Linked DNA regions of Homo sapiens. The protein of the gene in region 1 purifies or fractionates together with the protein of each later gene. This does not show direct contact. Each region holds a gene or a part of one and is shown in the gene's direction. Other genes may lie near its edges.

Region 1 (3,500 bases):
ATTTTTTTCTATCTGTGAGGTGAGTTGTAATAATGTAGAGTTCCTGTGAGGTTTAAATGTGTTCACACACATAGCTCTTACAAAGGGCCTGGCTCATAGTAAATAAATGCTCACTGTTGATGGCTCCACAGAAGACAGCCCGATGTCCTCTACATGTAGCTGTTCAATAAATATACATATGTGTTCAATAAACCTTTATTATGCTTAGTAATTTGCTAGGTGCTAGGGAAATAATCATGAAAAAGACATAGTTTACATGCTTAATGAGAGATCACATTAATACGTATTTTTGTAAGGCCAGTAACTCCTTATCTGTCTGGCAGTTCTCGCCATTCTCTGAAAGCAATCTTCAGATTGTTTAAATTTTAGGCATTGAGACTTAAGATGTAGATTGGTTAAGGATCAAGGCCTTAACCATTGGCCCTCAAAAGATTTATATGGCAGGCTGTGATGTAGGGGAAAGAGCACTGAATTAGGAGTCCGGGAATATGATTCTGTGATTCTGATTCTTGTTCTAATACTCACATGTGGTGTGGCCTGGGGCAAATTCATTTTCTTCTGTGGGCCTCATTATTTTTCTGTTGGAAATAAATAAGCTTTTGGAGAAGCCAAGTTCAAAGGTACCTATTGAGATCTGCAGATCTCAACAAGTGGGAAGTTCCAGACTGAAATGTGGTCGTGGATGACATTAATTATTTTGGGAAAGGATAATAAATTACCTTGAGTTGGCACAATAGTTCATGATGATTTCACTTAATATATTTATTACAAGAGAGGTCACTTTGGGTATGCTCTATGCCTACTAAAATATCTCCTGGCCAGGCGCGGTGGCTCACGCCTGTAATCCCAGCACTTTGGGAGGCCAAGGTGGGTAGATCATGAAGTCAGGAGTTCAAGACCAACCTGGCCAAGATGGTGAAACTCCGTCTGTATTAAAACTACAAAAATTAGTCAGGCGCAGTGGCAGGTGCCTGTAATCCCAGCTACTCGGGAGGCTGAGGCAGGAGAATAGCTTGAACCAGTGTGGCAGAGGTTGCAGTGAGCTGAGATCATGCCACTGCACTCCAGCTTGGGCGACAGAGTGAGACTCCATCTCAAAAAAAAAAAAAAAAAATCTCCTTTGGGTATATTAAATTTATGGTATCCGTTTTTTCTTTTATGTGGTCTATCACTCTCCATTTTTCTTTTTTAATCTCTGATAAATTAATCCTTCATTTTTTTACTCAATTTGTCTCTTCAAAGATATTGCAAAGAATTTAACATATTGTTTGTATTATTAGTCAACTGTTATGATTCTTTCCAGCCTCATCTCTCAGTGTTCTCTTCTGTAAACCTCACTACTCCAACCTAATTTTCTGTCACACTCCTCATCCTCTATATTCTTCCTTACTGGCCTTTATTCTGTTTCTCAGGTGTACCAAGCTGATTTCCCTGTGCTTACAACTCTCTTTGCCTAACTATTTGTATGGCCAATTCCTTCAGATTTCAGCTGAAACATAACTTTTCAGAGACCCTTCCTGACCACCCAAACTCAAGCCACCTTCTACCCATACCCACCGTTACTCCATTTTATTTTCTTTATGTATGTTTTTGTTTGTTTGCTTGCTAATTGCCTTATTAGGAGAGAGAAGAGCAGACTCCTAGTTTGTATTATTCACCATTGAATCCCCAGCACTGGCACAGTGTTAGTATATATTTGCAATAAATGAATGAGTAAAATGCCAGTATCCTATATTTTGGTCTTGCTAGATATCTCACTGTTTGCCTACACACTTTGCATTTTTCTGTTTCCAAGCCTTTATATAGTTCATGCTGTTTGGTGTTTTGAATTTGAGAGGTTAATGCTTAAGTAATGGGAAGGTATAGATCAGAGCTAGATTGTTCCTGAATGTTTTTGTGGGAGGATATAGGGAAAGAACCCTACAGTGAAATTCTGGGAACACAGGTCTGCTTTAGCTCATTCGGGTAGCCTTGGGTGTAGCCCCACTTGCTGATCCTTCAAGGCCTAACTCCAGTACTGTATGTGTAATAAAACCTGTTTTCTCAGTTAGAATGACTCTCAAAGTCTTCTCTGGATTCCTATTACCTCATGACAGCTTTGAACACATTCTGTGTATGTAAAGTTAATAAACTAGGTGGTAATAAACAGTTTCTGAGAAACCAGGACTCTTTCACTTGCAAATGACAGAAACTCAAGTTAAGAAACTTAAAAAATAACAGAAACTAATTTAAAAGAGGGGAATTCAGTAGCTCAAGAAAATAGAAAATCAAGGAGCAGAACTGGCTTCAGGCATGGCTCTATTCAGGAACCTATCTCTATCCCTATCTGTGTCTTTCGGCTTGCTTCCTTTTTGTTTTGGCTTCATTCTTAGGGAAGCTTTTCCATATGGTGGTAAAATGACCATTGGCAGCTTCAGGGTGGGTGACTTTTTTCCATTTCGGTAACTCTTACTGAAAGAACACTTCTTTTTGCTGATAATTTTACCAGATGTCCTGAGACTGATGTCCATTGATCTGGCTTGGGTTACTTTTTAATCTATGCACCACTTACTCTGTGGACAGGGGTATTAGTATTCTCAGTAGCTAAATCTGAATGGTTTGCCAACTTTTGGAGCCAAAAGATGGAAGCAGCTGCACCCAGGTCACATGAACTAAGGAGAATCTAGAACCTGCCACCAAAAGAAAGGAGATATGGGTGCTGGTCATATCCATATCCAAAACAGTAGATGTTCTTCACAGTGTGCTGGACACTGGGTGTGCAAAGCCAAATAAAACACTCTCTAGCTATCCTATAATACATAGTTTAGTTAGGAAACAGATAATTCTACTATATTTGGTTAAGTTCTGAATTTAAGTTACCTGAAAGAGATGATGTCTGGGTAGAGGATTGAAAGAACAAGTACAGTAGAGGTCATTCTTACCAGAAGATAAAGTGGAAAATGATAAGAGATGAGGCTGGAAAAGTAGGTAGGGTCTAGGTCATGGAGACCTGTTACATCATGTAAAGAGCATGATCTAGTTGATGAGGAGCCATTGAAGGAAAGAGGAATGGTCAGCCCTGGGCTTAAGACAGATCACTGGTAGCATTTTGGAAGATAGATTTAAGATAAACAGATCAGAAGCAGAGAGACCAGTCATGAAGTGGATCTGAACTCAAGTAGTGGTAATAGGGAGGAGGAAGACGGGAAGAGGATGATGAGGGGCTTGGATAAAATCAGACCATCTTGGTGATTGGTTGGAGAGGAAAAAAATCTAAGATGGCCCCTATATTTTGGCTCAGGTAACTGGTACCTGGTGGCACCTCTAAAACTTTGGGAAATAAAAGAGGTTGAAAAATTTGGGGTAAGAAGAGAAAGACAATGAGTTCAAAGTTTTTATTTGTTGTATGTGTGATGCCTGCAGAGTATTTTGTCTAGCAGACATTTGGAATAAGTTTTCAGGAGAGGTCAGGTCTAGAAATAAGGATCTAAGAGTCAACAGCAGGTTGAGGATAGTTGAAA
Region 2 (3,500 bases), on another chromosome or scaffold:
GGCTGGGCCTGTGGTACCATTTGGAATTGTGCAGTCCACAACCTGATCAACCATACCCAGCCATCTCAGGTGGCAATAGTGGTGTGTAGTGGTGGTTGTTGTTGCTTATTGTTATATTTACTTTTCCTGGAGTCCAAGGTCCCTAGGCCAAGAGGAGGGGAGAGGCCTGGTTGGCATAAACCAGGGGCTCCCTAAGGCAGCGGCGCCTTAGCTCAGACTTCAGCTCACACCTCTCTGCCTAAGAAGTGAGCCAGTTCATTCCCTGTAGGAGTAGATAAGTTGAGACTCCAGCTGTGGTATCTTGAGCTGAAGCAGCCTCCCCTGCATTCCAGAGTCCTTCTCCCAAATGTCACTGTCCAGTGCTCTTGGGAGCCTAAACCCTCACTCTGCCTCTTTGAAGGCTTGGCCCCTCTCCACAGTGCCCATCCCTGATGCAATATCTCCTTTGCCTCTCCAGGGCTCTGCCAGCAGACAGCCTTGGCACACAGGCACAAGGGCTGGAGCCCAGAGATGAGAGTGCCCAAGGGAGGTAAGTGCACCTAGAAGGAACTTCCCCTGGAGTCCTGGCCCCTCCTGAGACCGCCCTCCAAAAGTCCCCTCCATGCCCCCAGCCTCCATGATTGGGTGCCTGGGCAAACTCCCCTGGCTGGTTTTCACCTTTCTGTTCAGCCAGCAGGTTGGAAATCTGGTACTAGAAAAAGCTGCATCCCAGCAAGCATCATAGAGAGATGAGCATCTTCCTTGTCTATTAGGAAGACGATTCTCCAGGTGATAGGAGAGAGAAGGCTGAGTCCCAAAGTGGGCGGGGGACTTGCCCAGTGTCACGGAGCAGATTCAAGCCAGAACCCAAACGCTGTTGTGTCCCGTTCTCCTAATGTTAGTGTTTTAGGTATGCTTTCTCAGTACCCCACAGGAGTTCCTTGGCCTTCTGAATAGCTTCCTTGAGAAAAGGGTATTATTATTCCTTTTTTGGAGAAGAAAGTAGAAGCTCAGAGAAGTGATACCTTTTGTCCAGATCACCAGCTGGCAAGTGGCAGCAGAAGTGAGATTTGAACCTTGGAGTGTAGTACTCCAAGTTAGAAGCCCTCACCTATCATCCTCACTGCGAGGATGCCAGGATACCTCCCTTGCCAGGGTCCAGCAGGGTGATGAGGGTGTTGGGCAGGCCTAGTTCCCTGGGCTGGGCCCTCTAGCTCCTTCCACAGTGGGGTCCCTAGCTCTGGGTAACCAGGAAGCTACTTTCTGCTTTGTGGGTTCCAGGCTGCTTTCTGTGTCCCAAGTCACCCTGCTTTTTCTTCTTAAGCCATCGTGCAGGTCATTGCTGTCTTCTGCTCACTTCTGACTTGCCTGCTTTGAGCTGTTTTCTTCAGCCTTGGCCTGGTCTGATCCAGGATTCCTGCCCTGGCCATGCAACCTTGGGCAAGCTGCTTCATCTCTTTGAGCTTAGATACTGCAGGGAAAATGCTTTAGCAGAGTTTATGCTCCATAATTTCGAACACCTTTGCTGAACATAAAATGCTGAAGCTGGCCGGGTGCGGTGGCTCACACCTGTAATCCCAGCACTTTGGGAGGCTGAGGCGGGCAGATCACCTTAGGTCAGGAGTTCGAGACCAGCCTGGCTAACATGGTGAAACCCCATCTCTACTAAAAACACACAAAAAAATCAGCCAAGGTGGGGATGCTGTCACTGAAATCCTAATAACTGACAGGATTCTGGTCACAGGTCTCAGGGGAGAATTTCACTGAGCACCTGATGAAGACAAAGGGTCGTTGCAGGGATTTCGGAATGGCTTCATGTCCTGTTCAGCCTGCCTCCCCGCAGGAAGTAGCTCTGAATTAGCTTTCTCCATCACAGACCCTGAATCGAGGGTACAAATGAAGCCCCAACCTCTTCAGCAGAACTTCATCAGCACGTTTTTCTGAAGAGAGGGAAATTATCCAATGCACAGAGAGGCCGGTGACCCCAGCCTGAGATCCATCTCTGGTTTGTCAGCTGCTTCTCATATTTTCACAGCAGCCTCTGAGGTCAGTGGATCCACCCTGATTTTGCAGCTGAAGAGACTGTGGCTAAGATGAGGGAAGTGACTCTCCCAAGCCACATGGCCAGGAAGTCCTAGCCTCTTAGCAGTTTCCACCCCAGGCCTGAGACTGTGTTCCCTCCGCTTTGATGTTTATTTTCCACTTGCTATAGCCTAAGAAGGCCCAGGCAGCCCAAGCCCTTGCAGGTGGATAGGCCCAGCTGCAGACTGGGCCCTTGGGTGGTTTTGGGTGGAACCTCACATCCAAAGAGGCATGCTGTCTTCCCACTGGCTTCCACCAAACCCTCCGTTCACTAAGTCACTTGCAGTTCCCCAGTCGTGCTGCATCCTTTCCTGCCTGTGGCTCTGCGCTGGCTATTCCCTTTGCTGGTAACATCCTTGTTTCCCTTCTCCACCTGCCTGTTTCCTACCCACCACTGAAAATTCTGCATGAAGGCTACCTCCTGCAGGAGGCCTTCCCTCACCTACGCAGGTAGAACCCATCAATCTCTCTCAGGCACAGGTCCATGGTAAGAGTAGACTTTGGAGGCTGAGGCTCCCAGCACATAGCAGGTGCTCATTAAATGTTGGAATAAGTAAATAACCAATGATTATGATAGAAATCACTAATATTCTTGGGCCAGATGGGGTAACTCATGCCTGTAATCCCATCATTTTGGGAGGCTGAGGCGGGAGGATCACTTGAAGCGAGACCCTGTTTCTAAAAATTAGCCAGGTGCGGTGGTGTGTGCCTGTAGTCCCAGGTACTTGGGAGGCTGAGGCAGAGGATTGCTTGAGCCCAGGAGTCCGAGGCCGCAGTGAGCTATGATCTCTCACCACTCAATGCACTCCAGCCTTTTTTTTTTTTTTTTTTAGACGGAGTCTCGCTCTGTCGCCCACGCTGGAGTGCAGTGGCGCAGTCTAGGCTCACTGCAAGCTCTGCCTCCCAGGTTCACGCCATTCTCCTGCCGCAGCCTCCCGAGTAGCTGGGACTACAGGCGCCCGCCACCATGCCCAGCTAATTTTTTGTATTTTAGTAGAGATGGGATATCACCGTGTTAGCCAGGATGGTCTCGATCTCCTGACCTCATGATCCGCTGGACCGGGTGGCTCATGCCTGTAATCCCATCACTTTGGGAGACAGGTAGGAGGATCACCCAGGCCCACGAGTTCAAGAGCAGCCTGGGAAACATGGTGAGACCCCATCTCTTTAAAAAAACAAAAAAAATTGAAAAAAGTGCCCAGCAGGGTGCCAGGCACACAGCTAGTGCTTATGAAAGGTGCCCTCTGCATTCATGTCAGCAGCCTCTTGTTTGCAGTTATAGGGCTTTGCAGTTATTGGAGAGCTCACAGCTCACAGACCTCCCTGACTATGCATGTCCCCCTCTCTCCCCAGATGTGAGCCTGGCGGGCTGCCCGCTAACCTGTCGCTGAAGCCCCAGAAGCGGGCCCTCAGGCCAGGCCTACCCTGCCTCCGGCCCA

The links. Proteins that work in one complex are often made in the same cells at the same time.
Region 2: the proteins of FAM114A2 (region 1) and TPST2 purify together in Homo sapiens (co-immunoprecipitation; one large-scale study listed by IntAct). This does not show direct contact.

What each region holds. Positions count from the first base shown.
Region 1 is NC_000005.10:154,004,411-154,007,910, reverse strand, and holds part of FAM114A2 (protein FAM114A2), read left to right. Parts: intron 1-3,500.
Region 2 is NC_000022.11:26,541,633-26,545,132, reverse strand, and holds part of TPST2 (protein-tyrosine sulfotransferase 2), read left to right. Parts: intron 1-457; coding exon of another isoform or gene 458-529; intron 530-3,414; coding exon of another isoform or gene 3,415-3,500. UniProt on the Homo sapiens protein: Catalyzes the O-sulfation of tyrosine residues within acidic motifs of polypeptides, using 3'-phosphoadenylyl sulfate (PAPS) as cosubstrate.